Linked DNA regions of Homo sapiens: regions 2 and 3 are each linked to region 1. The links come from fine-mapping of genetic effects on gene expression. A gene starts in region 1. Each other region holds a variant in brackets. All regions are shown on one strand. Distances are between the middles of the regions.

Region 1 (10,731 bases):
TTTAAAGAGGAAGGGAGGTGGGTAGCAAATCAATAAGACAGGAGAAAAGACTCTAAGAGGAAAGGACGTAAAAACACAAGTATGGGGATGAGCAAGTACAAATTATGTATGGGAAATGACAAATAATTTATTTCAGCCATAACACTATCTGAGAAGAAACAGTGAAAATCCCTAGGATATGGCTGTACTGTATGCATCACTGAATCTGTTCACCTGGACAGTACGAACACAAGTCAGTAAGAACACAAGCTTTGAAGCAAAAAGACCTGGGATCCAATATCCAAACTCTTTCTCATTATCTGAGCAACTCTGAATTTGAATCTCAGTTCCCTATCTATAAACTTAAATAATACTACCTTTCTTTAGTACTATTATAAAAATGAAGAAAATGATGTAAAGAACTGGGCAAGCTTGTATCAGAATAAGTGCTAATAAACAGTCATCTTTTGTCATATTAAGCCACTAGCAAAATATCAATTTTAAAAGAAGCATAAAAGTAGAAAGGTACTGTTGTAAAAGATTTGTATGGTATTTATTTCTAAGTAACTGTCTTAATTAAATACATGAGTAAGCACGTACTATGTAAATTTATTCACCAGTGAAGTAGCACATTTCAGCCGTAGCCGTAATTGAGAACATAATCGTATACTGCCTCTTACTGTTTCACGGGCGAATTGATTGTTCTGTGATAATGTAAGCTAAAAGAATAGAATTTACGTTTCTGTTTCATTTGTATCTTTAGCAGTCTTCACAGTTTATATATATATATATATTTTTTTTTTGTTCTGTTTTAGTTGTGAGAGTAGCAGTACAGGTGCTGACTGTCGTGCTTTATTGGTCAAGAAACTTGCCCAGATCTGTAACAGTGAAGAAACTAGACCTCATTTTTTAGTTTAGATCCAGTGCTTTCAATTTATACCTGTTTCCTCTTTTTGCCATTTAATGTTACCTATAACTAAACACTTTCACTTACTTCATTTCATAGTTCTAATAAGCAAGTGTCCATAACTACTATGTATATGCTATCTAAAGCTATTGGAAAGAAAAATGATGGAGAAATAATTGTGTAAATGAAAAGACCCATTCTTTTATTTTAGATGCTATTTTAAAAATGGCACCATAAATTTATAGAAAACATTTAATGAGTATTATGTAAGTAATACAATTCAGTATTACATATATGAAATTCATGACATTTAAAAAGAATAGCAAGACAATGCTTTTATATTATTAATATGTTAATAAAAGTAAAAGTTTTTATCAGTATGCATTTTAAAGAAAGATCAGCTAAGGCTCAGAAGTGACTTCCAGTTCTGACACTTCATAATGGCTTAATCACCACTACAGCTGGTATCATTTTAAAGTGTAGATCCCCTTTTCTCAACACCTATTATTTGCCAACATTCAGTGCTAACTTTCTATGTACAGGTAAGCTGAAATCCATTACAACTTTTTCTTTATGATTAAAACCTTAAAAATACAAAAATATATACAAAATTATCACTAGGGAAAAACATTCTATTTAATTATATAATGGCCTTTTTGACTATCTTCATGAGACAAAATAAATAAACACTTTCATTTCCAAAGAGAATAAAATAAACACAGGATTTGTTCTCTTTTTCTGAGTAGGGTCACTAAGTATGGGGCAACAGTCTAAGCAAAGTTATAGTAGATTCTATAATGAAAGTTATCTTTGATATTTTCTTCTTGAAGGTAGGAACATGAATTGGACGTAAAGTTGCTTCAGAGCCTTTAATTTCCCAACCTTCATTACTCCAAAAAGAAAGGAAATATTTATTGAGAGTCTACTATGTTGGAGATACTTCAGTGGGATTAAATTGAACACATTTAAAATGTATTTCCTACTAATAAAGATAATTTTCAATGTGAGAGCCGCCACTAGGGGGGGTTGATTTTTCTTAATAAATTCAACTCAAGATTGAAAGAGCTTCAGGTTACAATTGTCACCTACTTTACTCCAAAATTTTATGGAATACTTATATTCCATAAAATTTATATTTAATTGGCTGTCTTTTTAAACAGTCCTATAATAATGCTACAGCATATTTTATCTGTAAATAAAATAAAATGGCTCTCATTTAAGAGGTCAAAGTTAAGTAGGTCTGGATAGCATTTTCAGCTCAAAACAAGATCTATTTTCCCCAATGTTGGCATGTTTTGGGGCTCATTAGGCCACAAACTGGTAGTTTAATTTTAAAACTCAAATTTAATACTAGGTTTAATGACTTCATTTCTAAAATAAACTTTGATTAACTGCATTATAAAGTTAACAATTTTTCATTCAGGTAAAAATAATTTATATAAACACTTTCACTTGATAATGAAAATGCCAGCACTAGCCTATTCTTACAGAGCAAGCTGGTAATATTTAAGGCATCTGTATGATTAGAAGCAATATACGGTGCTCAGCAGAGATCTGATAAACATCTATGCTAACAAAATGTGGGTGAATGGAAAAAATACTTTTGTTATATTATAAGAAATTAATACAAGTATATTAAAAACTAAGTAAGTATAATATTAGGATAATCTAATAAAAAGTACATTTTACGCAAAATAACCAAAATCCATAAATGTTAAACTGTGTAATGAATACAAAATTATGGCATTTGTTTTTGTTTACAAAGCCATCCAGGTCCTTTGATAACACCCTAACTGAAACCCAGTATCTTAAAAACACATCAGGGAGATCTTCATGTTTTCTCACCATACACATAAAACCCATGACACCCCTATTATATATGATGCTAAGTGTATTATTATATTAATAAACACATAGAACAGACATTTGGGATGCCTCCCAACTTTAACCATCAATGACAATGTCAAATAAGACAAACATACTTTAATATAAGAAACCATTCTACAAAATTAAAAGTATTAATAACCGATGTCTCAAACTGCCAAGGTAGAAAACTGCTGGTTTGACAATATTCCCTTAAGACACACTGTACCATAAAACTTCCAAATTTTCATCAGTCTATTTATAGATTATTATCCTCTGTTAATGCCAATTCATAAGTATACTTCTGAAGAACTATGATAACTGAAATTCTGAAAGGAAACTAAAATTTTAGAATGAAACTTTAAACCAATAACTGGTTTTAAATGTAAATCTTAAAGTGTTATTTTTCTGGTTCCCATTAGTGATAGTTGGAGTCTAAGCAAAATGCACACTTCTGATTTGGTCTGAGAAGACGTTTAAGAGTTCTTAAAATTGTTTACGAAAACTTGAAACACATGTAGGTAAAGTAACTCAGAGATCTAGAAATAAAAAAATTGGAATAAACACATGAATACAACCACCTCACAACAGGAAATGTTTTGAGCACGGATAGTTTTTTCTGACACACACAAAAAATTGGCCATCTCACACAAATATTCCACCAAAATCAACCGACAACGACAAAAGCAAGTTTGTACTCACTCAACTAGAAGAAAACTTTGAAGGGGAAAAGAATTAGAGGTAGATGTTAAGAATGAAAACCTCTCTCAAATGCAGTTCTAAATCTTTTATTTTACAGACCCTAAAGCCACCCCAAAAGTGATAAGCAAGCTTCCGAAAAAGATGTCTGAAGAATACAAATCCTCCACCGTATCCTGTCCGTTGCATCCACTCCCACCTGCTACCACTTCTATCCACTTTACCGATATGGTCACGATGAGCGCTACAAAATTGCTGCCAAATAAGTAAATATGAGCGCAACACAAAGCCAGTTGGTGGGGACCAAAAAGTACCTTTAGAGGCACTCAGCCCCTTCGTAAAAGTCAGCATGTGTTTAGCTCTTTAAAACATCTCGCCTTACCAAACTCTACGAAGAATGAGAATTAAGACCGTCCTCTAACCTAACCCATGCGGATATGAAAAGTGGAAGGAGATTTCAAGACAGGTTTATACTAACTAATCCATTAGCCCAAGGCAGATCAGAGCTGTCAACAAATCAGGACCAAATCAGAAAGAACAAAGTTGCAAATGTGAGAGGGTGTGTATGCACTGGTGCGGGGGAAGAGGATGGGTGGGAGGACAATTTTTAAAATGCAATCATTGAAAACGGGAGAATCCAAGTCCTCTGTCTCCCAGCCGGCCTCCAAACCTCGATTCCACGGGCAGTGCCGGGAATGGACCTAATCCCAGGATCGCAGGGATTTGGGGGCGGGGTGGGGCTGCCTCCCGCACCCGCGTGCCTGAGCGCCCAGCCCCCGCGATGAGGACGCGCTCGGGACACTCACGTTTTCTGCACCGGCTTCCGCCGCTTGCGACTGGCGTAGGTGATGTTGGCGCTGCTGCTGTTCATGGTGCCCAGCCGACGGCGGCGGCTACTCCCCGGGCACTGGCGGCCGGGTCCCCGGAACCCGGTGTAGGCTGGGACCACTGCGGCGGCCGGCGCCGGGTTCCGCGAAGCCGCGCCCGCTCCACCTGCGTCCTCTCGGGACAGTGGCGTGGGCGCCGCGCCTCAACGCCTCGGCTCACGCAGGCTTCCGCAGCCCGCGCCAGTACAGGTGAGCTGCCTGGGCCTGGCGCAGTGAGGGTGGGCGAGGGGCGGAGACCCGCGAGCAAGGCGGCGCAGGTGCCGTCTACACCGGCGGAGGCGGCGCGGCAATGCCCGCAGGTGAGGCGGCCCGGGCGGAGGAGGAGCCTGGGCCGTCTATTTAGAATCCTGGCCTGGGTCGCTCACGGTGGCGCCGCGCCCCGTGACCGTCGCCGCGGCCCCTTGGGTGAGGGAGGTGCCGCCGCGCTGCTCCCGGGACTTCCTAAATCCAGGGTGCTTCCCGCCTGCGGAGCTCGGGCGCGGGCCACCAGTCCCGGCTGCTCCCAGCTTCCGTTCGGCTACACGGCTGCCCCTGTTCTGAGCTGGCGGTCCGGGGCACGCTCTCGGAACAGAGCGTCGACGGGACTCCCCAGCCACTGCCTCCCGCCGCCGCGCGCACCGGCTGAATAGCAGGAGCACCCCCGACCCCTCACCGGCCCCGCCCCGCCCAGATCCCGCGTAGCCCCGCCCCGTCCTGCTTGCCCCCGCCCATCTGGATTCCATTCCGTCTTCCTTGAGGGCCCCACCCTCATCCCGGCACGTGATGACGTAGGACGTAAGGACGCCCCCCCCCGCCGGTAGCCATCTTCGTGCATAGGCAAACTTATTGTAGCTAGACTGTACAAAGTATATCAAGATATGCCAAATATTGAGCTTAACTTCACCTGTTTGAGAGACGGTGGGTCAGCTAACTTGTGGCTAAGAATTACAATTAACTGGTAGACAACTGGTAGACAACCAATGGGACTGTATATTTTCCTAGTTGGGAAGGCTTCAGAAGGCCAGATTTGAGTTGAGACTTGAAGGCTAGGAGTTTCCTTGACCTTTTTTGGTGTGCGGGGGAAGTCTTTACAATAGACAGGAATATAGATAATAAGGGGACTATTATGTATTGTGTCATGGAGGACCATGTGGAAAAATATTGGGAGTAATTAACAATATTGAATACTGTTGAGAAATTCAAATTAGTTGAGAACTGAAAATGTCATTCTTGTTTTCTCAATGTGTAGTCACTGATGACTTTCGTGAATGCAGTGTTGGGGTAATGGGCCTGCAAATAACATTGAAGTGGGTACAGGATTGAGCTGAAGATAACAAAATGGCATCCTCAAGCAGGCAATTTTTCTTCCAAGTTTAGCTGTGGATGAGAGACACATCAGATTGTATGTAGGGGGAGTGAAGGGTTAAATGAGGGTTTTCTAGTTTTGGTTTAGTTCTTTAATGGGCGATACTGAGCGGCTTAGAGGGGGTAGAGATAAACTATGTAGGGAACCTGAGGGAAGAGTGAAGGAATGATAGATATTAAGATACCGAAAGCAGGAGGGAATGAGTGCCAAAGCATAAATGGGAGATTAGGACTAATAGATTAGATACTAACAGAAACAGCACTTACAGTGCTTTGCTATTCAGAGTACTCCACAGCTTCTTTTGAGAGTTACAGGAAATGCAGACTCTTTGGGTGTCCTTATTAAATCAGAACCCGAAGTTCACAGGAACTCCCAGGTGATTCAAATGTACATAAAGTTGGAGGAGCAGTTCTCTACCATAGCTGGAGGAAAGAAGGACAGTGGGTGAGATATAGTAGGCTACTAAATTTTGGATCAGAAAAATGAAGGAGATGTAACAAAGAGGGTATTCTAGCATGAGCTACAAAAGAACAATTGTGTTTTGTGGTCGATGATCTTTGTTTTAATTTTAGAAGAGCATAAAGTGAAAGTGATCTGGGAAGTGACAACAAGGAAGTAGATGGACATCCACCCTGTATCCTGTGATAAGAGAAAATAATTAGGCAGTATTGGGGAGACCTTTAGGAAAGTGATAGCCTCAGTAAGCCACCTTTCAGTTTAAGGAAAAAGATGGAGCAAATTCCCAAAGAAGACAGTGTACACTGGGAAAGTTTGATGTTTATGAATTAGCAATTGCAGAGGCAGAATCAACCATCTCTATTTTTCCCTTCTCTTTCATTTCTTCATTTATCTGTGCTTACTTATAGCCATTCTATCTAAAACGTGTAAGTGTAAAAGAATAATTTCCTCCTAGCTAGGAACTTTAAGGGTGAAAAATTTATATCAAAACATAATTTATTGATTCTGTAGCTTATAACTCCTCTTCATAAAAGAGATGTACTAAATGCAATGAACCAATCTTAATTTAGTGATTTAAAAAAATCCTACCCTTTTTAAGGTTGTTGGCTATTTGGTGCAGTCATTTTCTACCTTATTTTGACTTTCATACCCTTATTTTTTTATGGTTAAGTTTAGGATTATTTTCATTATCCAGAAGTCATATGCTATATTATGTTACATAGTCTTAGTTAAGTAACAGATCTTTGCATAATTAAGATTAAAATTGAATATCAACAAAATTCCCAGAATTCATTTTATTTTAATAGTGACATGAACTTACCTTAACAGTTTTGCTGGCATGTGAATACAGTATAGTGTAGTGCCATTTTTAAAAAATGAGCTGCCATTATCTAGAAACTTCCTGTATTGGCACTGTGGAACATGGTTCTCAAAGTATGGTTTGTGTCCATCTGCTAAGATTTAAAAACTTTTTTGTGAGCAGTTTTTTTTTTTGTAGTTACGTGATTTTTATCTCATAATAATTAATTTGGCTATAAGAGTCGGTGAACATTTGATTACCTTATCCAAAGAACATCCTTTTAATCAATTGGGTTGAGCTTAGTTTCTGAGGTTTCAGATGCAGCTGTATGTGTATGGGTTTCTTTCTCCTGCGAAATAGTATGAGAAAAATGTTTTAGGAATGCTATTATAAATATCAGCTGTTCTTGAATAAAGGAAAATAATCAAAATGAATGCTAAACCTATTCTATCACAGTTCATTTCACTAAGCAAGATTTTAGCCCCTATAATATACCAGACACTGTGGGTTACAGTAGTGATATCAGACATGTTCTTTCCTCTTAGAGCTTACATTCTAATGAGAGAGACAAGAATTAACCAGATAGTTACACAAATGAATGTATAATTACAACTGGGACAAGTACTGTGAAATGAATACTGTGAGAATGTATAATAGGTGGATTTAACTTGGTAAGGGTAACTTGGTAACCTCCCTGAGGGAGCTTGAGCTGAGTTTTGAGGCATAGGTAGGCATTTTATAGGTAGGCATAGGTAGGCATTTTATAGGTGACCTGGGGAGGAAGGGGAATTTCATGCAGACTGAACATGTATCACTTTTTAATCTCCTCTTCAATTCTGCAGCTCCTTACTTCAGGCCCTCAGAATTGTCTTTTACAGTTTACAACACACATTGTAGCTATATGAAGTATTTTACAGAGGGTAGTCCATGCTTCCTAAACTATGTACTGAGGCACCCCAGGAGCACCACAACAAACTCACAGGGGCACTATCATGGGATATTTTAAATTTTCAAGGCCAACACAGTGACATCAGTTGGACACCGTGCAAACCACTATCTTGAGGTAGTTCAGAACTTCTACACATTAAATTGTACTTCATTCCTTTTGACATCGTATCTTTGTGAGGCTGTGTTTTTGTAAATTGCTGTAATAAAACACAAGGACTATGGGAAAATTACTGTAGAACAGGAATGAGGGTAGCGGTTTCCAAGTTTATTCCTAAGTTTGAGAAGTTATGAAGTGCCCAACAGATGTGCACATCCCATTAAGAATAAAAAATGTTAATGTATATTATTTTTTAAATAGCTACTAAGTTGTTAGGATAGACAAACATAAGTTTGGGTTTAACTGTTTAATAAATGGAACTGTTAGGTGTTTCTTTTAGCTTGCAACACCATGAAAAAATTACTGAGACACTAGGAATGCTGTGAACTGAGAAAGTTTGGGACCTTTGGCATAACTAAATCCTTCATTTAACAGGTGAGAAACTTCAGGCCCAGAGAGATCAAGTGCCCTGCTAATCATAGCCTAGAATCTGGGTCTTGTGACTTCTGCCCCAGTCTAAAATGTATAACTTATCTGACTTTGAACTGTTCTGATTCATTTATTAAAAATAATCAGTTTACACATTGCTTGCTTTTACTCCTAACACTGAAGAACAGACATAGACATCTAAGGGCTGTTTCTAAATGCTTAATGTCTTCTTTACTTGCTTGGATACAACAATGTCATAGAAGCCACAGAGAAGTAATTAATAGATAATGCTAATCTTAATTCTGACAAAGAAACTACAAGATAGGAATAATTTGTTATTAGTCAAAATTATTTTTATTCACTTATGGATAATGCTTTGTTGCAAGAAACATTTAGGTTTTTAACACATGAAAGTACATTATTAAAATGTTAACATGCAGTAAGTTTGGATTTCGATTTCTTTCTTTCCGGACTTTTAATTCTTACGAATTTGAAGTTTGATTATGGGGAAAGTTATAAAAAAGTTTTATGTTTCACATGCTAAGATTCATGTCTAATTTATTAAACATTTTATTAAAATATATATGTATAAATATCATTTTTACTAAAATCCATTTAACTTTGGAGATAAATATATTTGAAAACTACATAATACATACTTTCTGCATTTTAAATCATGATATAGAAGAAACTGAAATTAAGATAAAATACATTTATTTAACAAAGAAAATTATTAACTTGATAAGAACAGCTTAAGGAAATGTAAATTATTGTAAAATGCTGACCTAAAATATATAATTTAGATTTGCTAAACTTTAAAAGGCTATCATTCTTATTCATATTAAGAAACAAAATGTATTCTTTACTGAAAATATTTAACAAATTTAATTAATGTGTGGACAGTGGTTCTCAACATTTGTTGCATATTGTAGTCACTTGAGAACTGTAAAAATTACGGATCCTTGGCTCCACTACAAAAATTTTTATTTAATTTATCTATGTTGTGTCCTGGAATCGGGATTTTACAGGTGATAGAGGTATTGTGGTTATATACCTCTATCACCTGTAGAGGTATATACCTCTAGAATAAAGAGAAGATCCTTATTCTCAGGAAATGCATGCTGCAACATTCATATATATATATGTATATATATATATATATATATACACACATATATATATATACACATATATACATATATATATATACATATATACATATATATATACACACACATACACATATACACAATTATGAAAGGTATACAAACATTTGTGGTATTCTTTCAACTTTGCCATATGTTGAAAAATTGCACAATAAAAACAAAAAATAAGTGCAAAAATAAATAGCCATGTACTTTCAAGTTAAAAAATTGAGAGACAAAATATCTGAAGCCTGATAATTGTTTCCATGGGAGGTCAGGACAGATACATATTAGGCACCCAGCTTTTACGTAAGATAAAGCTTTAGACCTTGCTCTAAATCTTGATATTACAGGAAACAGATGGAAGATAAATTTTAAAAGATTCAAAGTTTCTGCACTTCTCCATTTTGAAAACAAAGTTAGAATCCCAAATCTCCATTGTATGGCCTCCGTGGGCTGAAGAATATGTGTAGTTAGTTGTGCATTACAAGAATTTAGCTGATTTATACTAACCACAAATTATTCATTTTGCTGTATTCACCAGTTATTTATACTAAAATGCTAATAGTTTCTAATACCTTACGAATACCTTTTTGCTTGTTCTTATGCATTTGAAATTTCTCCTTTATCTACTTTCCTGTATATAATCACTGACTTTTCTGAGACTTTATAATGTATCAGTAGACAGGATTTATGTCTATAAGGCTTACATGCTAAAATAATAGTTTAAAAAAAAAAGTCTGGAACAAATGTTAACTTGTACTGCAAGTTAAAGCTTTTCACTTTAATGCTATGCAAAACAGCTGCATAAGTAATATTTTTAGGACCCTCCTCACTCAGACCCCATACCAAGCATCAGAAATACCTGCCATTACCTAATCGGTAAGTTGATGAAGGAGATCTGGTTACATAATTAATCAAGGGGATATAGCTGAGGGTGGAGTGTCCTGTAAAACAGAATGTTCTCCACCCTTCCCTCCTAAAGCAAGCTGTAGGAATTTTCCTTGTAAAACTTTAAACTTTAGTTGAGTGGCCTTCCTGCCTGAATGTAGATGGAGCTCCCATCTGTCTTCACAGAGGCGAGGGCTTCTGATGAAAATGAGTAGGAAGGATTCGATGTATTCCCAGATCTTGGACAGATCTCTTACATTCTTTTAATCCTTGCGTTAGGTTG
Region 2 (10,731 bases), 110 kb before region 1:
AATTGGCATATTTAAAATATTACATTGTGTATCTCTCAATTTAGATCTTTTAAAATATATTTCAAAATGTAAAAATTTCTCCATGAAATGATTGATCATCTCTTGTTAAATTAATCCCTAATTATCTATGTTTGGTTCTACAAATGACATTTTCTGTTTGTTAACTTTTGTGTATTGATCTTATATCATCACTTAGTCACTTAGCTAAGCTCTTTTATACATTTGAGTAATCTGTCTGTAGCCTTCTTTGGTTTTTCTATGTAAACAATAATATCTTCTACGAATAATGAGAATTTTGTTTATTCTTTTCTTATTCTTTCTTTTTTTATGTGGTTTCTGCCATCCTTAGTTCAATGTTGAATATGCATGGTAATAGTGGGCATCCTTCTTTTGTTCCTTCCTTTAAAGAAAATGATTTTACCACCTCTCCAATGAATATGATATCTCCTTTGAGAATTTTGTATTTACTCTTTTGCCAGTTATGAGAATTTCCTTCTATTCCACGTTCACTGAGAGTTTCTAATGTGAATGAATATTGACTTTCATCTGCAAAAAGAGATGATTTTATAAGTTGTCATTATTTTGTTAATTTATGTTAATAGTTTTGATGCTAATTAGCCTTTTATTTTTTGGATAAAGTCAATTTAGTAATTTGTGTGTGTGTTTAATGCATTGCTACATTTAGATTGCTAATATTTTGTATTGGATTTTGGAATCAAGATAACAATCATGGCCTCATTAAACAACTTAAAGAGGAACGTGTCTTTTTTTTTTTTATTTTCTGGAAGAGTTTATGTTAAATTGGAATATTTGCTCATTAAATATATTTAGCAGAATTTATTATAAAACTGTGGACTTCAGTTTTATGTGAAAAGATAGTTTAACTTCAATGTTTAACTAATTTCAATGATTCAGGACTGCACAGGTTTTCTAATTCTTTCATAAGTCAATTTTTGCAAAATATAACTTTCTAGAAATGTGCCCATTTTATCCAAGTTGTCATTATAATTAAAAGTTGTCTATAACATTCTGCTATCATTCTAGTCCTTCTGAAGTTGTTTTCTTGTGATTTGCCGATATTGTATCTATCCCTTTTTTCTTAATTTGTCAGAGACATCTAGATTTTAACTGCTTCAAAGAACAGAGGTAGTTTCATTAATTTTCCATATTCTTATGTTTTGTTAATTTTTGCTTTTATTTTTGTTATCTTCTTTTTCTGCTTTCTGGATTTATTTTTTCAATATTATTCTAAATCATTGATGATTACTTTATTAATTTTCATCCCTTCTGAAAGTCTATAAACTTCTCTCTGCACTATTTTATCTGTATTCCATGTTTTGATATATAGAATTTTTCATAATTGTTTAGTTCTAACGTTTTCTAATATCCATTTGAATGCTATTTTGATGTATTATTTAGAAGTTTGTTTTTAAATTTCTAAATATATGAGCTTTTTCATAATGTTTTCATCACTGGTTTTAAACTTTATTGTGATTAGAGAACGTGGCCCACATATTATGAAATATTTCTTTCATATTGGTTAACACTAGTTTTATAGTTTATTATGTGGCTCTTATATACTTATATGGTCAGTGTCACATGTGCTTAATTCTGTTGTCTCTAATTGTTTCATGCTTTATTCTACGTACAGCAATTAGTTCAAGTATGTTGTGGTCTTAACATTTTTTATGTATTACTGTTTTTTTGTGAGAAGATACGTTTTTGATTTTGTCTATTTAACTTCTGAATTGCCAAGCACTGTGTCTCAAAAGCACACACGATGATTCAGGAATCTCTGCTAATATTTACTATATACAATTTTGAATTGTGAAATTTGGTAGATGGTAATTTAGAGAGTTACTCTGTCATTATGTAGTCATCCTCTAACTCGAATTATGCTTTTTTACTTGAAGGTCTATTTTATCTGATAATAATATAGCCACAATATATTTTTTTACCCTTTTATTTAAAAATGTTTTGTGTCTTTAAGATTGCTGATGTATTTTGATTAATTCCTACCATCTTATTTTGTACTTTCCTTTCCAGCTTAATACAGTTTATAATTAATCTGTGTCTATTTGCACTTCCTACAAGGACTTTAGCATGCTTTAACTCTGAGCATGACCTTTCTGACTTAGTCTTGTTTTTGTTTCTCCAATTTCTCTGCGGTGAGCACGCCCTAAAGTGACCTCCTATGAGTCACGCCCTTGCACAATTTTCTCTGCTTAAGTGCGGACAGAACCTGTGCCCTGCTTCTAACCAATGAAATACGGCAAAGACAATGGGACATCACTCCCTTAAGTTATTTTATATGATAGAAGTGATAGGATGCCACTTTAATAATTACTTATCATATACATCCTGGAGAGAAATCCTTTTGGTGGCTTGAAGAAAATAGCTGTCATACTGTGAGAAGGTCTATGGGATGGGGTGGCCTGCCTGCAGCTGACAGCTAGCAAAAAGTCTGGGCCCTCAGTGTAGAGCTTAAAGGAAATTAATTCTGCTAACAACCTGAATGAGCTTGGAAGTGGATTCTTCCTCAGTGGCCATCCAGGTGAGAACACAGGCTGTGAGACCAGATCAGGGAACCCAATTAAACTGTGCCCAGACTCATGACACATGGAAACTTAAGGTCAATAAATTTGTATTGTTTTAAGCCACTAAATTTGTGGTACTTTGTTACACAGCAATAAAAAATTAATATACTCTAAAATTAGACATTATTATTGAGTATTATATTTAACATTTGTTTAGATTTACTCACATTTACCACTTTATTTTCGCTCACCCTTTCTTCTTGAACTCAGTTTTTCTGAAAGCATTTTCCTTATTTCTGAAATATATATTTTAGAAGCTCCTGTAGGGAAAAGATGTTTGTGAGGACTCTCTTGATCTTTTTTAATCTAAAAATGACATACAATTTTACAATTCTAGATATGTAGCTATAAGCATTTTTTCATGGATTTAATATGATCTCACAGTTTACTGGTTTCCATTGTTGTTGTTTAGAATTCAGCTATCACTGTAAATATTTCTTTGGAGGCAATGTTTTTCTCTCTGGATTTTTAAAAGTTCTTTTTCACTGGTGTTCTACAGTTCAGTGAAGACTGGGATTTGTTTTGCTTTCTAAATCTGAAGATTCATGTCATCTGGAATTCTGGAATTGCTCAGACATTTTCCCTCTGAAATTATCTCTCTTTCATTTCTCTGATATTTCTTTGTGGAATTCTGATTTGGATATATGTTGTATCTTACAAATATTTTTTATGTCTCTCTACTGCTTTTATACTCCCTCTGTTTCTCTGTGTTCTGTTAGAGCCAACTACTTCAGCTTTATAGTCTAGGTTTGTCATTCTATCTTCAGTCATGTCTAATAGGCTAAGCAGTATACCTATTGAATTTTTAATTTTAAGTACTGTAATTTTCATTTCTGAATGTCCTATTTTTAGTTTTTATTAGAACTGCCTAGTCATCTTTATAGTCACTTCTTCCTCATTCATGTATGTGACTTTCTTTTCCAACTTTATTCTTTTTCTTTAACTTTAAATACCAGTTTTGTAGTATAAATGTAACTAGTTCATTATCTAGGGCTGATTCTCTTGTTTATTGTTTCTACTGAAATTGACTCCTATTTCTTCTTTCATTTTGTAATTTTAGATTCTGGGATAATGTTGGGACTTTATAAATGGAAGTTCTTTGAGGTTGACAGTTGATTCATCTAGAGAAAATTATTTGCTTCTGTCAGGCAGTTAAGGAAGCTTCAAATCTAGGGTGGCAGGAGTCTTTTTCAGACAATGCAGTCGGTGAGATAGGGAATCCTGTATTAGTCAGAATTGTACAGAGATTAATAGGATGGATGGGTGGATGGATGGATAGATATATAAGAGAGATTTATTAGGAGAATTGGCTTACACAATTATGAAATCTGAGAAGGTCATCTGCAAGACGGAGAACCGGAAAAGCTGATGGTATGACTCTCAGCACAAGGTCAAAAGCCTGAGAACCCAGGAACTGCTGGTGCAAGTGCCTGAGTCCAATGGCTGGAGAACCTGGAGTTCTAATGTCCAAGAGCAGGAGAAGAAGGGTATCTCAGCTTGAAGGAGGAGAACAAATTTGCTTTTCCTTTGCATTTTCATTCTATTCTAGTCCTCAGCTGATGGGATGGTGCCCATCCACACTGAAGGCAGATTTTCCTTACTCAGTCCACTGATTCAAATGCCGATTTCTTCCAGAAAACCCTCACAGATGCACCCAGAAATAATGCTTTACCAGCTATCTAAGTATCCCTCAATCCAGTCAAATTAACACACAAAATTAACCATCACAGACCCTAACCTAGGGCCATTTGAGGACTAGCTCCGACTTATAAATTCTCACAAGATGCTCAAAAAATTCACCAGTTTTATTTGTTTCTTCATTCAGGGCAGGTTGTTTTTAATTTTTATTTTTTTCCTAATTTGCAGTTTCACTGAAGATGTAATTCATTATGGGTTCCAGAATTTGAATCTAACTCTCCCATTGTGCCGACCTGAGTTGATCTGTGTCACAACTGAAGCCCCAGGCCCCTGGAATTCATAGATGATTTCACTGCTTACAATTCTCTGAATTGGTCCTTCCCAGAACATTTAGCCTCTGATAACTCCAATGGTTTCCCTTACTCTTTCCAACACAGGCATGCATTTAAATGTGTTTTTCATTTTGTATCTACTACTTTTAGGTGCTTTGTAGCAGGATAGATTTTCAGGATATTTACTCTGCCAATACTGTTGGAAAAGGAAGTCTCTGTCTACTCTTCACCTTCCTGTAACCCCGTTTTGCCCCTAGCATTTTACAGATTCTATTCCTGCTAAGGTCACCAGTGACATCATAATTCCTAAATAAATACTCATCAGACCTTTTCTCACTCGGTAGCTTTCGAAACCTTCGTCCACTCTTTCCATGAATCACCCTTCTCCCTTGTATTATCTCATAATATTACACAGGCATGCATACACACACACACGTGCGCGCACACACACACCACACAAACCTTGGCATTTGCCGTTATGAGCTCTTAGGATATTATTTTCACACTGCCCTTCTTTCTAAAAAGGTCTACTAAGAAACATTAAAACAAAGAAATTTTCCTAATCCTCTATCCAATGAGATCCTGAACATACATCTTAATACCGCTGTCGCTTATTGCAAGAACCATTTGTCTCTCAAGTCTGCTCTGCCATTAATCTATTTTTTCATTAAAATTTATTTTTATTTTTTATTTTTAGATATGGGGTCCCACTGTGTTGCCCAGGCTTGCCTCAAACTCCTGGACTCAAGCAATCCTTCTGCCTTGGCCTCCCAAAGTGCTGTGACTATAGGTGTGAGCCACTTCACCCAGCCTTCCCTTTTTATCTTGAATAATATTCCTTGCCTTAAATTCTATTTTGTTTCATATTGGTTGCATGTTATACATTTTCCATTCTTTTACTTTTCTATATTCTTCTATATAAGGAAAATCTCTTGAAAGTAGCATATTTTTTTTTTTTCCAATCTGGCGATCTTTAGCTTTTAATTAGAGTACTTACTTTGCTGACATTTCATGTAATTACAAATATATTTGGGTTTAAATCTATCATCTTACTACCTTTTTTTAAATTATACTTTAAGTTCTGGGGTACATGTGCAGAATGTGCAGGTTACATAGGTATACATAGGTATACACGTGCCATGGTGATTTGCTGCACCCATCTACCCTAATACCTATGTCATCTACATTAGGTATTTCTCTAATGCTATCCCTCCCCTAGCCCCCAGCCCCCGACAGGCCCCGGTGTGTGATGTTCCCCTCCCTGTGTCCATGTATTCTCATTGTTCAGCTCCCACTTATAAGTGAGAACATGCGGTGTTTAGTTTTCTGTTCTTGTTTTAGTTTGCTGAGAACGATGGTTTCCAGCTTCATCCGTGTCCTTGCAAAGGACATGAATCCAGCAGCACACCAAAAAGCGTATCCACCACAATCAAGTCAGCTTCATCCCTGGGATGCAAGGCTGGCTCAACATATGCACATCAATAAACGTAATCCATCACATAAACAGAACCAATGACAAAAGCCACATGATTATCCCAATAGATGCAGAAAAGGCCTTCAATAAAATTCAACACCCCTTCATGGTAAAAACTCTCAATAAACTAGGTATTGATAGAACATATCTCAAAATAAGAGCTGTTTATGACAAACCCGCAGCCAGTATCATACTGAATGGGCAAAAACTGGAAGCATTCCCTTTGAAAACTGGCACAAGAAAAGGATGCCCTCTCTCACCACTCCTAGTCAACATAGTATTGGAAGTTCTGGCCGGGGCAATCAGCCAAGGGAAAGAAATAAAGGGTATTCAAGTAGGAAGAGAGGAAGTCAAATTGTCTCTGTTTGCAGATGACATTAATCTATTTTTAAAAAGGGGTGCCAGCCCCTCTTAGAAGTTTGCCTGTTGCTTAAAATCCTATCCATTACTGATTTTATTACACTCCTGCTTCAAATTTGATTCATTTGCTTATAATTACTGGCGAATAAATGGCTAGGTGCCACTTTCAACGGCAAGCTTACAGTTCTGTAGAAGCTATAAAAGTCAACTTCAGAACAGCTGCCGTAGGATGGCTTGGGTTGGGAGGTTCTAGAGCTATAAGTCACTTCACCACCAGAATGCCAGATCAAGGGTCTGCTTTTTAGTTGCACCCAACAGACAGGAAGCAGGCTTATCAGTGACTCTTTAGCAATGGCTAATAAAGAAGATAGCTTAGATGTGGAATCTCAAACAGCTGAATTCACAGTAGCAGAGAGTAGAATGGTGGTTATTAGGGGAAGGGGCTGGGAGAGAAGAAAGGGAAGGTGCTGGTCAAAGTGTATAAAATTTTAGGTATGTAGGGTGAATACATTCTAGAGATCTAATGTATAGCATAGTGACCATAGTTAGTAATACTATATTATATACATGAAATTTGATAGGAGAGTATATCTCAAGTATTCTCACCACACACATACACAAGGTAACTACCTGAGAAGATGGGTATGTTAATTAGCTAACGATAGCAGTCATTTAACTCTCTATATTAAAACATCCTGCTGTATACCTTAAATATATTCACTTTTTTTGAAACAGGGTCTCACTGTGCCACCCAGGCTAGAGTGCAATGGCACGATCAAAGCTCACTGTAGCCGTTATTTCCCAGGCTCAAGAGATTTCCCACCTCAGCGCTCCCAAGTAGCTGGGACCAAAGGCGTGCGCCACCACATTTGAGTTTTTTTTTTTTTTTTTTTTTTTTAAGTGGAGATGAAGTCTC[G/A]CTATGTTGCCCAGACTGGTCTCAAATTCCTGAGTTGAAGTGATCTTCTTGCCTCAGTCTCCCAAAGTGTTGGGATTACAGGCATGAGCCACCACACTTGGCCTGAAAATATTTTGAAAACTTTAAAAATAAAAAAAAAGAAGATAGCTTGGGGCCACCCTGAATATCGTTATGAGACTCACCTCTGTATGTTTTATAGTAAAATATTATTCATTTTACTCATAAATCATGTTCAAGTGATATTTGAGTGGAAATGTTTTTCTTTCAGCAAATTCAGAGGTAATATCAAGGAGCATGATCTGGAGAAGGCAGCGTGGGTCAAATACTAAAATCTGGACTTACTGTCTCAGCAGTTGGCAAGCAACCAAGGTGAAGCTAGTGCTGTGGAAAGTCCCCAAAGGACCAGAGCAGATATACTCAGTGTCCTTTACCTCTACAGCTCCGCATTTTCAAACTCCCCCACTTGTCCTTCAGTCCATCCTCTAAATACTGTTCTTTCTCAGCTTGTGTTCTCACTCATCATCTCTTCTCATGCCACCTGACCTCCTTATGTGAGGTTCTTGGCATCAGTCATCAGATTTACCCTGACAACTCCCACGGATACATGATTAGCTCTGATATCCACCGGGGTTTAAAGAACTGTTGCAAATTCTTCCTGATTACCTCCTCTTAAAGGCACCTCAAATTCAATGTGACTGAAACGGAGCTCTTCCCCTGTATATCAGCTGTCAGTTCTCATTGCTTCAGCACCTAGTAAATTCTCTCACCAGCTCACTCCTTTCAGACTACTCCATAAAATCAAGAAAAGCCTAAAATGGCCAAAAACTAACCTATCCTGCATAATCATCGCTTGTAATTTTGCCCACAACTTCAGTAGTTTGACGTAAAAGATGTTCCATTCTTTACCACTGAGTAAAGAAGTTAAAAATGTTCCGTAATTTCGAATTCCTCTTTGTTCTAAGACTTTACTCTCACCTCCGGGTTCACAGCTAAGCTCCCCCATGACTGATACCGCTGAAAGTCTTGTTTCAACAAAACATTCATGTATATGTAAAAAATAAATCATCTGACAAATTGAGAATTGCTCAATTTGAAAAACAGATTCAGTGATAAAGACAGAGGTCAATATTAAACCTATGAGTAAGGTAAAGAAATGGGCGGGAAGAAAAATAACCCCAAATCGTTGACTTCCCAGAACCCAGAGGCTAATAGGACTCTCACTTCCTGCTTGAGGTGAAAGCAAGCAAAGGCACCTCTGTTCCTATCTTGTCTTGGTCAAAAGATAAATATGAATTATTATTCTTTTCTTTTTTCATCAGTAAAGAACTTTCCATCACCCTTTTGGCAACTTTCTGCACCAGCCACTTCCCCCTCATAACTCCAGTCAACCGTTCTCACATCTGAGAAAAATAGGTGGAGGATATTTCCAGGAGCCTCTGTTGCTGAGGTTGCCCACAGTCAGGTAAAAGTGGGAGAAATTTCTGAACCACCAAAAACCTGTTCCTGAGAGACAGAAGTAGAAAAAACTTACACATATTTTTAAAAAAGAGAAGTTGAGGTGTAGGGGGATGGTGACTCAATAAAACTTCCTCCCATGATAAAATAAAGTAAAATAAAATAAAGTGAAAGTGTCTGCCACTACATTCTCAGAAGCCAAGCGTAGTCTTTTTATAGCCACCTCAGGGAGTATCTTCAGGATCTCCAAGCATTTAGATATTCCCAACTTCCACATATTTAGCACCTGGGGTGACAGGAAGGGTGTGTTCAACTCCATTAGCAGTATCCTTTGGAAAGGAAGCTGGGTGCACTCTTTCAGAACTGCTTAACATTTCCCTTTTAAAAAGATAGATCGGTAGAATTTAGTGAATTTTCCATATAGCTTAATTTCAATTCCATGTAAGAGCAAAATAACAAAATGGTCATATTTCTTTTATATTTGCTTTCTTCTTTTCTGAGCAGTTGGTGAGAGAGAGGTTGGTTTCTGGGAAGGTGATAATTTGGAGTCTTATTTTTTTTCTGCCCATTTCATATTATAGATTTAATATTGGCTCTGGATCATTGAATGTATTCTTCAAACTGAATGATGCTAGTGAGATGACTTCATTTATACATACATTGATACTTTATTTAAAGGCTCATGTTTTGTTAAGTTCTGTCTTAGGAGAAAATGACCCATGCTTTAAATAGTAGTACGTATGCTTCAGGAAAAAACATATGGTCATCACAATCTCACCATCTACTCTACCTGCTGAGATGGATGTTGGTTTAGGCATCCAGGTTCAAGCTCTGATTTCTATGTTTCTCAAATTTTGTTGTGTAGATGTTACATAATAGATGAAAGGGAGAAAAAGACTTCAAATTAGTCCACTGTGACTTGATTGCTTTGGACTGGAAAGGGCAGAGGGTCAGTAAATAAACAGAAGAGCTGCTTCTGTGCAAAGAGAAAGAGGACAGAAGCCAATGTGGGCTGCACTAAGAGTGAGCTTGAGTCAAACTGAGCAAAGGGAAGGCAACTCCTTTTCTGGTGAGACAATTATAGGAGTCTCAGGGAAAGAAGATTTTAGGAAGTATTTCTCTGCATCAGAAGTAGAATGTTCCTCTAGAATTTTTCAGGACACCTCATTAGAGATTTAAATTGCTTTCAGTTGCTGTTTGTGGGTATTGTACTGTCTCTTCGATTGCTGTAGGATACTGAGGTGGGCTCTAAAGGAGTAGCAAAAGCTCTGCCTGTTTATGGCTCAGTCCCATCGCAGTGGGATTACATTCTCCTTAAGAACTCAAGACACTTGAAAGTCACGTCAACATTTTAGGCCCTGCCTGTACTGAGTTAAATAATTTATTTCAACATAATTTGTTACTTTCGTTGTTATTATACTCGTATTTATTATTAAGTGATTATAATGTAGAAGGAATTGTGCTAAGTGTTATGCATGAGGTAATTTGATTAATCCTTCTACAATCTGAGGCTGGTGCTATTTTTATCCCCATTTAAAGACTGAGGACACTGAGACACAGATTTGACAGTCTGGCCAGTCCTACAGCAAATACGTGCCTATGCCAGGGTTCAAATGGAAGATGCCTGACCTCTAAGTCTAAGATTTTAGGCTTTGACTCAAAGGATCTGCTCAGCTTATGTGCAGAACTCCTAAAAATGAAACCATAGAGACAATTTTGAATTTAGAGTTATAAAACTCACACTTAGGTTTTTAAAAGCACAGTCATGAATAATATATCCTAAAATCCTGTCTTTAAATGGACTGGACTAGTTTTTCACAGGGAAAGTGATATTACTGTCCTCTGGGGGAAAAGTGATACTTTGATCTCATCACTAGAACTTCCTCCTAAAAGGATATGTCCAGAAAGGAATTAGAAGTTGAAAATGTTTCCTTTTACCTTAAGACTATTCCATACACC
Region 3 (10,731 bases), 71 kb after region 1:
TACCTGTTGGGCACCATGTACACTATTCAAGTTGATGGGTAGACTAAAAGCCCAGACTTCACCACTATACAATTCATTCATGTAACCAAAAACCGCTAGTATCACAGAAGCTATTGAAATTTTAAAAAAAATTAGCCTGCTTCTTAGCCAATCACTACTGAAGTTCTGCAACAGGCCTATCAACCAAGACGTATGAGATAAATTGCTCATTCCACCTACTGTTTCTTTGTCAGGGTACTCGCAAAGCTATGGACCCAAGTCTTTGAGAAGCCCTATCACTAGGAATAAAGGATAAGCATGAATTAACAGGGACAGAAGTATACGAGAAATTTTATTTTGAAGCAAGATTTATACTACCCCACTTCTGTAAGATCTGAAGTATCAGCACTATTTGACTTGCTGCAGAGGAAATCAGAACTAGTGTGAGGACCTGTAAACTTATATCAGCAACTTGGACCTTGCCTGGCCAAAGCTGTTAGAGCAGTATGTTGAGACACCTGGAGCTACAGAAGGAGTCACGCTCACTAAAAAGATGCCAGGACATACTGAGAAAGCTAAGGCAGAAATAGCACAATTGAGTCAAGTGCTGGATTAGGGCCAGAAAATGAAGAAAAATCACGCTGAGATATAATTGGGGAATAGAAGGATCTTTGAACAAGCATCGGGAATACTAAGTAGTTTTTGAGTGGTGTGTAGACAGGTAATCTTGGAATAAAATGTTTTGTAAATAATAAAAAACACCCTCTATTTCCTCTATGGGATAAACATTTTCTTCAAAGAGAAGAAAGTAGAGAGCTTATCTGTGCCAGGAATTCTAAGGCCTCAGTGGAGTTACTGCTTGGAATTTCTACCCAATCCCCTGGTAGCAGGCCTCCTGGCCAACTCCATGGAGCCTGGGTTTTCACAAAGCTGGAGCCTTACAGAAAGCACAAGGTAAGACTGAGAAATAGAAGGCTGACTTTAAGAAAAGGAGTACAATACTCTATTGAAAGTTGTCATCTAGATGTTCTTCTACCTGAGTGTTTTCTGGACAACATCCTTGTTCATTTGGCAGTCAAGTCTCTCAAGAACGCTTAGAGGGATGATTGATGACCTGGGCTGGATCCCAATTCTGGAACAAGATGGCATATCCTCGCTTTTCTCTGTTCCTCAGTGGCCCTCTCCAGGTTGCCCAATGACAGTAGGTAGCCCAAGGAAGTACCTTCCACTTCCACAGATGACACCAGAACATTGATTGAGCAGTAAGCCCAACAGCATGCGAAAAATGAAGAACCATTCAACCAGAATAACATTGCAAGAGCTCAGAAAACTAAACTTTCATTGGAACTAAAGCCAATAAAAGTAGGACAGACCTGACAAGCAGAACCTAAACAGGACAACTGCCTGCTAAAACAGAAGGTGTAAATAGGATCAAGTGTCTCCTAACATAAGAACTAAAATGTCCAGGATGTAACAGAAAATCATTCATCAAGAACCAGGCAAGCTACAATCTGAATGAGGAAAGACAATCCACTGGTGCCAATAATAACAAGATAAATTAGATGTTGGAATATCTGACAAAGATTTTAAAGCAGCTGTCATAAAACACACCAAAAATCAATTACAAATCCTCTTAAAACAAATAAAAATATAGAAAATCTGAGCAAAGAAATAAAATGATGGAAAATACTTGGGATAGCTTGCATAGCACCATTTCCAGGCCAACTTCTATGACCCTGGCTGCTTTTCAACTAATCATAACTATTAGACATGTTAGGAACAGTTCTGGATTGGAATACCCCCTGGGACAAACAAGGATATGTAGTGACTCTTAAGTTTCCTTATCTGTACTTCAAATTTCACCCCTCTTCCCTCTTTTCCTAATTTTCCTCAGTAAATTTAACTCTTTAGGAAAGGTCAGTGGTTCACTCAGCTCCTGGACATGATTATAGTATTCTAAGAACTAAAAATAACATGTATTCATGCTCTGTTCAGGGACTACCCAACCCGACCTGACTTGTTGCTGTCAAAATTGGCAGGTACCTACAATACTGATTGGGGTGGGGAGGGTACCCTTTTGTTAAAAGTTCCTGGTTTTACTGTCTCTAAGTCTATACCTAGTTTGAAGATAGATGGTTTTAGTGAGGTCACATATACTAATGGAAACAGAGTAGCAGCTGATGACCAAGATTGCCTTTAGAGTTTAGAAACACTGCCTTGAATTGGGCTTATCCTAAGCCCCAAATTTTAGCCTGCACTAGCCAAGTTGATTTTATTATTAGAACACTTTAAGTTCATATCTGTCATGTAGCAAGCAGTGGAAAGTAACAGCCAGACACCCAAGAATGTTATCAAGGTCTCCAAGCACTGGCAAAGGCATTATGCCCAGAAAGATCCTTGCGATGAGACATTTTCAGCCATTCAAATGTAGTTACAACTGACCAAGGCAAAATGGGGAAATAATAGTACCTGCTTCATCAGGTTGTTATGAGTATTACATGAGACAGCACATTAGTTATAATGATGATGGTCATGGTGATGACTTTTCTGGAAACCAAAGAAGGGATGCTATTCTGCAGGGCTTAGAAGTAGAGGAGCATAACCCCCTAAAAACAGTAAGAGAAGCTAAGACTAAAGGGGTGGGTTAAGACAGAGCCCATAATGCCCAAATGCCAAAAGAGTGGAAAAAAAGCAACAAATCCGTAAGAGAAAGACAAAACAGAGGGATACGCGCTGGATGTCAAGTCAAGAAAGCAGAACCAGAGGGTGAAAACAGCTTAAGATCAAATGGACTGGTGGCTGAGGGGTCTCAAACAATGTCCTTCAATGTTGTCGCTATCTGAAGCTGACTTTTATGATGCAATGTTAAGGAGTATGACCTGCCTTATAGGCCCAAAAGTGGGAAGGCAGTTGAGAGGCCATCACAACAAATAATTATTCAAAACCAGTTTTTGTATTCTAGTTTTGGTGGTGGAAAGCTGAAATGCTTATTTATGGATAATTGAGTTTTAACTATTTTATGTCATTTCATGTAGACATCATGAGATGAGATGTTTCTATTGTATTTTTAGTTTGTTTTCAAATAATGTGTTATGACATAAGATTCAAACTTGAATGTGCCAAAGGTCAGACTTGCTCAATTTGCCCAAAGGAAAGATCATAATGAAAATTCCTAGAGAGGTTTAATACGTCAAATGTAATTACATCTCAGTCAGTTGCTCAACATTTTAAAGCATATTCTTTGTGCAGAGTTCAAAGTAAAGTGCTTTAAATCTACATTTTCTGTAAGAATATTTTATTGGTATAGGTTTTATCTTCGAATAAGAGAAGCCTAATTCTCAAAGATCACAGACACATATGAATCATTTTTGGTTCATGGATTTGTATTTCTGGTCATAAAAATTCACTTCATTACACCCTTATATTTCCATTCTCTGTCTCTTGTCAGAAATATTTTGACACATGACCAATGAAAAATAATCTTTGATAAATGATAAATACAATTGACAACATAATCAAGAGTATATACGCATAAACTAGTCTGTATTACAATTAAACAATTGTGAAATAGAGACATAAATCTAAAGATAAATGAAGAAATCTCTAAATTAGTAAAGAAAACATGGCATATAATGATCAAAAGAATTACTTGTTCTCATGTTATGAGGAAAATAAAATCTCCAACTATAAATATTGTTTTATATTATTTCAAGATCAAATAGTTTAAAATATTTAGTGTCTGCGGTAGATGAGTTAGTATACCGTTTCATATTACTTAGACCAAAGACTTAAGCAAACATCCATATTTGAAATGAATGAGAAAATATTTGCTTTATTTTATATATAATAGTTTTGAATTAGAAGTTTTTTTTCTTTGAAACTGTATATGCTAAAATGTCCGAGACTGTATTGGAATTAATGTTTGTAATTAAACTCTTTACATTTAAGCTACTTGTTTGATTCAAAGTTCAATGAGAGGAAACTTCTTATTCATCTGTCTGTATAAAAGGACTATTCTTTGATAAACAATTTTGTCTCTTATCCCCACCTATAATCATAAGTGTTTACTAGGAAAGATAAAGTCTCTAAGGTTTTTGTTTAGAAATGACTTTTAAAGAGTGCAAATTGCACCATGCCTAGTACATTACATGCCAACAGTAAAAAGGTAGAAGAGCCATTTATGTTGATGGTTTAGTTTATAAGCCTTTTTTCCCTCTATTCTTTCATGGTTTTACTATTTTCATTTCCCCACTATGCAGCCTACTAGTTGCTGAAGAATACCAATTACCAAATGTTGTCTCATTTAGTGGATTTTCCAGTTTCAAAGGAAAATTGCATTTTAGCGTAATTTCAAGATGACTCCTGAGGAGATTCATTTCTGTTATTTGTAGACAGCTGTTTGTTAAATTTGAAATCTTAGAGATTACAGCTTTTCCTTTTTTATCAGTAAATATTTTCTGTGATGTCTTCCATATGGTAAACATTCAATAAAAATTGTTTCATGAATGAATTGTATAGTTCTAAAAATACAAGTATACTAACGTTCTTAACATGATTTTCAACCAGACATACATAATTCTTTACAAATCCACTTCTAGACAACATTTATCTTCAGCTTGAATGGTTATTGCTATAAACAGAGTGAACTTCATGATCTTGCAAAACTTAGCTCAAATCCTGACTCAACCTCTACTAACCATGTG[A/G]CATTGGGCAAGTTACTTAACTCTGAATGTGAGAAGTTGTTTTTAAGAATTAGACACAAATACATAAGAAACAAATTAAGCATAATAGCTGTTTAATAAATGATTGCATTATTGTTATGAATAAAAACTTCTATTTTTTTTTTTTTTTTTTGAGACGGAGTCTCGCTCTGTCGCCCAGGCTGCTGGTTACTTGAGGCTCTTTGGAAGAGGGTTTCTTAAACCACTTCATTCTCACGTATATTAGTATATCCTTATGCAATATTATCCAGGTATCATACAGTCATGAAAATTAATGGATGGATATGAACAAATTATACTCAATAAAAATAAACATATCAGACAGAGGAAAGCGTATTAGTTTTAAGAACAAAAAGTTTCTTTTTCTGGCTACTTTTTATTAATTTCAAGTTTTCCTCTACCATAGAAAATACAGACAATGTGATATTGCGCTTTTGGGAAGGTATTAAAGCTTCCTTTGAGGCTTACTACAGTTTTCGTGAATGCCTCAGACATTGCTACTACATGCTACCAGGAAAATGACGTCCCTTAGGAATTGCCATTAAATTCATCGGGTAATTCTAAAATAATCATCTTAGAAGATGGTGGAGATAACCTACTAGTTCCTGGAGCAATTGTGGGGACAAGAACAGGAGAAGTAGGGATAATTTAGTATTCCCTTGTCGGACTTGTTTCCGTCATCTCGTTACTCTTGTTGGGACTGTACTGAGGTTATTCCTTGGACAATAGGTGGCCATGTAGGATGCTTCTATTCTCTCTCACCAAAAAATGAAACTAAAGAATTAAAACCTCCTCTGCCAGCCTCGCTCCAACAGTGTTACCTGATTCCTGTCTCTCCTGCAGGCTGCTTGTCTCCTTCACAACAAACCACGTCTGCCTTTCCTCCCTGCAGAAATCCAGTTATCATGTTAGTTCAGTGGACCCATCTTTCTCCTCTCTCTCTTATGTAGCATCTATAGTGTTCAGTTTGGGGAGGAAGCCAGCATCCTCTGTAGTTTATCTTTCTTGTCCAGAGTAGTAAGTCTCAAAATTCTTACCAGGATAATTTATCCCAGAGTCCTGTGCCAATCCATGCAAGAAGTTCTGATAATCTTATTTGAAAGTTGCTGTGAAGAGTTCTGAGTTATACATAATGTCGAACTTCGGGTGAATCATTAATCTTTCTGTTAAAATAAAAACACCATCGACTCTTAGGATATTTAATGTGAATTTTAAAGATGTTTCAAAAAATCAATGTAAATTATTTGAAAAGAAAATAGCCATTTTACTGTTTGATACAACTCTCTTTCTGGGGAAGGAAAATTTTTTTTTAAAAAATCAAGAAACATTCAGTTTACTAATTTGCTGGCATAGTGTTCCTGATATATATATATATATATATATATATATGTGGATATATATGGAGATATACATATATATGGAGATATATATATATGGAAAGGGATATATATTTATCTCCATATATATTTCTCCATATATATATATATCTCTCTCTATATATATATATATATCTCTCCATATATATATATTCGTATATGTATGTATCAGGAGATATATATATATATATATATATATCAGGAGATATACATATATATATATATATCAGGAGATATACATATATATATATATCAGGAGATATACATATATATCAGGAGATATATATATGTGTATCAGGAGATACATGTGTGTGTGTATATATATATATATATATATATATATATATATATATATATATGGTTTTTTTTAAGCAGTTGTCAAAATAGTTTCTGTGAAGCAGCCTACTAGGAATTACTTTGACCTCAGAGTGGCAGAGGTTATGGGGAGAAGCCATGGGTAGTGTTAGAGTAATACTTACAGGAAGAGCTACCTGATAGTGGAATGCATACCATCAGTTCAGTGTATGTGGGCATTGTTGACCACTGTCACTGTTTTGCTTGTGCAAGAACATGGTAACATAAGGCACCTCACCATCATACTGAAGGAATTTACCAATGAGATGATAAAAGCAATGACTGAATGCCGATTTTTTAGCTTCTCTATTTCTTTGTATAATTATTATACTTTCCAGTTTTTGCATTATGTATTCACATGAGTTCAGCTTTCTTTTGGAAAAAGAATAGAGCTGGCTATTACAAATAGTTCTACAATGAACATGGGAGTGGTAATAATCTCTTCAAGATTCTGATTTTAATTCTACTGTCCACAATAGACAAGGCACAGAAGTGACCTAAATGTCCATTTACAGAAATAGATAAAGAAAATGTGGTATATACATATATATGTACCTATACAATGGAATATTATTCAGCCTTGAAAAGGAAGCAAATTGTGCCATTTGTGACAACACAGATGAATGTGGTGGACATTGTGCTAAGTGAAACAAGCCAGGAACAGGACAAATGTTATATGATACCAATTTTATGGCAAATTTAAAATAGTCTCATGGAAGCAGAGAATAGAATGGTGGTTGTCAGGGGATGGTTGGGGGTAGGGAACAAGGAGATGTTAGTCAAAAGGTACAAAGCTCTAGTTTTACAAGATGAGTAAGTACTGGAGAGCTACCATACACCACAGCACTTATAGTTAACAATACTGTATTGTATGCTGAAAATTTGCTAAAATGTTAACTCTTATACTAAGCATTCTTATCACAAAAATAATAATAAGTAAAATGAGAGGAAACCTTTGGAAGTGATGGATATGTTGATGGCATAGAATATGGTAATGGTTTTATGGCTGTATACTTATTCCCAAACTCACCAAGTTGTATACCTTAAATATACACAGCTTTTCATATGTCAACTGCACCTCAATAAAGTGGTTAGGAAAAAATAGAGTTGGCTCAGATGGTTAGATCCAAAGAAGATAAATTTTCTTGTTCTCTTAGCAATGTTAAATAGGCATTCCCAGTGGTATTGGACATTTTACTCAAAACAGAAACAGGAAATATATACAAGACTTAGAGAATGACCACTGTCTGTCATATCTAGTACATATGCAGTCTGATATATGTCCTATAATTCTGTAAGACGTTAAAAGATTGCCAAGCCTTAAGGCCTAGCAGTGGATGACAGGTAGAAGAATACCAAGAAAAGTACCTTGATAACAACTGGATCTCTTTCAAATATACCACATCACATTGGGAGCACATCAGGCAGACAAGACCTTCCACTTTTTCTACTGTGTTTTAAAAATCATTATATTTTACAAGGATTAATATAAAGGATTTCTATATTCAATTAACACAATAATAGGTCTCACTGAAAATACTCATTAAAAAACTCTTGCATAAACATTCATGGTATCTACATTTTCAGACTCTAAAAACTGAGGGTGAATTGAGTACAATTCATTAATACTGATAGACCATAAAATAACTGTATGAGAGCATTCTCATTTGTTTTCACAGTTCCTATTCTGATAGCAGTGGTTTCTAAAGAAAGGCATTCTGTTCAATTCCCACCTATGAGTGAGAATATGCGGTGTTTGGTTTTTTGTTCTTGCGATAGTTTACTGAGAATGATGGTTTCCAATTTCATCCATGTCCCTACAAAGGACATGAACTGATCACATGGTCACAGGAAGGGGAATATCACACTCTGGGGACTGTGGTGGGGTGGGGGGAGGGGGAGGGGTAGCATTGGGAGATATACCTAATGCTAGATGACGAGTTAGTGGGTGCAGCACACCAGCATGGCACATGTATACATATGTAACTAACCTGCACAATGTGCACATGTACCCTAGAACTTAAAGTATAATAAAAAAAAAAAAAAAAGAAAGGCATTCTGCTGCAAAGTCCATAGATTTGCAGAGCTCACATGTCTAAAGGAATTATTGAGGTTAAGTAAAAAAACTAATGATGCTTTGCAAATCAAGTCCAAATGATAAAGTTTAATGCATATATGTATTCACATATATGCACACATAGAATGTATTCAGAGTTATTTTAAAATTATTGCAACCCTATTATGAATATTATTCTGAAACCCATTACAGTATTTTACATATTATGTAAAATCTTCACATAAGGTATTATAAACAATCTTTTAAATACAAACCATGGACATGTTTAATTTTATTTCCTAAGTCATCATGATGGAACATTTGAGTTGTTTTCAAGATGTCATGATTTTATATAATCTTTTGGTCAACTTTTAATAAACAAATATTTGGGAATATATTTCGTGATTTTTGTTAGACAGATCCTTGGCAGTGGAAATGATGAGTGAAAGGTTGAAGGCTTTTGAGATCTTTTGCCAAAATCCCCCTCAGAACAGTTGCATCAAAAGGTAATCTAATCAGCAGTGCATAAGTGCACACTTATAAAGTGTTCCTAATACCTACCTACTGTGTAATATCACCTAGATAATCTCACATGGCACCTCTGTAGAAATAACTTATTTGCTGCTAATCAAAATGCTACTATGATAACATTTGCCAAGGTAAATAATCAAATTAATCATGTAACCTCAAAAACATATGTATGAGAGGAGCCAATTCCTTATAACCATGCAGAATGCCATCAAAACTCTAAGAAATATTTGCAGCTATTATTCTCTGTTTCTCTCAGAGGATAAGCTGTGGATAAATACCGAAAGCTAGTTGCTTCCTAAAGTTGTTTTTCAGATTTGATTACCTAAGACATGCAGATGTCATGTTACGTCATCTTATCAGATTAGCACATGTAATAGATAGAATGTCAAACAAGAGTGAGAATTCAGAGGAAAGAAAAATGATCCCCAGGGCTAGGGTGTAAGTACTGTCTTAGCGAAACTATACTTCTAGATGTGACAGAAGTACCACAAGACCATTTTAAAATCTTAAGACCACCTTCATTCTGTCTGTTGACTCTGAAAATCATAGAACATCAATTACTCTAAAGTGATTTGGCATCAGAGCTGTTCACATTCTTTCTGGGTAGAATAATTTAGTATTTTTCAATCTTTGGTATAACGATACAATGGAAAGAGAATAGAAGAGAAGAAAACCAAATTTTTTTCTATCCCAGCTCCACTACATACGTAACTTGAGGTAGAGGAAGACACTTTTATAACATTAGCTAAATTTCATTGAGCACTCTTTATATTTCAGGCCTTGTGCTAGCATGTGTGTGTATGTGTATCTCATGTAATCCTATAATAACTACACTATAAGCGATATTCTGCCTTCTCCCCCTTCTTGTAAATAGGAACATTGAGGCTGCGAGTTCATATGCCTTTCCCAGAATGACTCAGTCATCAGTGATGGAGACTCATCAAGTGATGGAGACCCATTGTCTGTCATCCCAAGAATCCATAGACTTAACCACCACCCTGTTGTTAAAGTTGCTTTTCTAAAAAATGGGGCACTTAGGAAATAAGACTAGATATTTTCTAAATTTCTCTCAAAGTCTAAAATTCTCTTTCTTAGGACTTCCTACTTTGTTTATAATAAAATGGTATTATTTTTGTATTTATGGAATCCATATGGGCTGAAGGTACTATTTAAACTTCCCAGTTATAATCATACTAATTTTTAAAATCAGCATTAAAATATAACTCATATAAAGCATAGAATTCCTTGGTTTTTTAAATATTCACAGACTTGTGCAACTGTTAACACCATCAACTTTGGAACGTTTTTATCACTCAAAGAAGAACCCTTGTATCTATTTGCTAATACATACAGGGTATGGCTACACATTTCCCATCAACCCCCAATCCAAGTCCCAGTCCTAAGCAATTATTATCTACTTTTTATCTCTATGGATTTGCCTATTTTGGACATTTCATATCAATATATAGTCTTGTGACTGCCTTCTTTCACTTAGCGTAATATTTTCAAGGTTTATCCATGCCATAGCGTATATCAGTACTCTTTTTTAATGGCTGAATAATATTTCATTGTTTGCATATACCATGCTTTCTTCATCCATTTGTCAGGTGATGGATAATTCAGTTGTTTATACTTTTGAATTATTATGAATAATGTTGCTAAGAATATTCATGAACATACTGGTGTATGGACATATGTTTTCAGTTATCTTGAA

Which allele goes with the higher level. Positions count from the first base shown, and alleles are read on the strand shown. Sizes are in standard deviations (SD) of each study's normalised expression. Not every link is listed here.
For the expression in testis of the gene that starts at base 4,932 in region 1, allele G in region 2 goes with a lower level than allele A (small effect, 0.16 SD a copy in GTEx).

The links. PIP is the estimated chance that this variant, and not a neighbour inherited with it, causes the effect.
Region 2: its variant is the best candidate, but not a certain one, in a credible set for the expression of AHR in testis (GTEx, PIP 0.72).
Region 3: its variant is the best candidate, but not a certain one, in a credible set for the expression of AHR in whole blood (INTERVAL, PIP 0.77).

What each region holds. Positions count from the first base shown.
Region 1 is chr7:17,292,853-17,303,583 of GRCh38, reverse strand. AHR (aryl hydrocarbon receptor) reads right to left here and starts at 4,932. Exons shown (of 11, transcript NM_001621.5): 1 at 4,255-4,932. The coding sequence starts at 4,319. It overlaps LOC101927609 (a long non-coding RNA gene), which reads left to right and starts at 4,264. Exons shown (of 12, transcript XR_007060234.1): 1 at 4,264-4,524; 2 at 8,324-8,418. RefSeq lists silencers at 4,258-4,307, 4,348-4,457, 4,508-4,657.
Region 2 is chr7:17,400,162-17,410,892 of GRCh38, reverse strand. The region is part of intron 1 of LINC02888 (long intergenic non-protein coding RNA 2888); the gene reads right to left. Among named protein-coding and RNA genes, the nearest start is that of LINC02888, 31 kb to the right of the region's middle. RefSeq lists an enhancer at 4,279-5,478. The variant G/A (reference allele first, on the strand shown) is at 7,318.
Region 3 is chr7:17,221,866-17,232,596 of GRCh38, reverse strand. LOC107986772 (a long non-coding RNA gene) reads right to left here. Exons shown (of 3, transcript XR_001745107.2): 3 at 3,786-5,863. All of the region lies in intron 6 of LOC101927609 (a long non-coding RNA gene), which reads left to right. Among named protein-coding and RNA genes, the nearest start is that of AHR, 71 kb to the left of the region's middle. The variant A/G (reference allele first, on the strand shown) is at 4,683.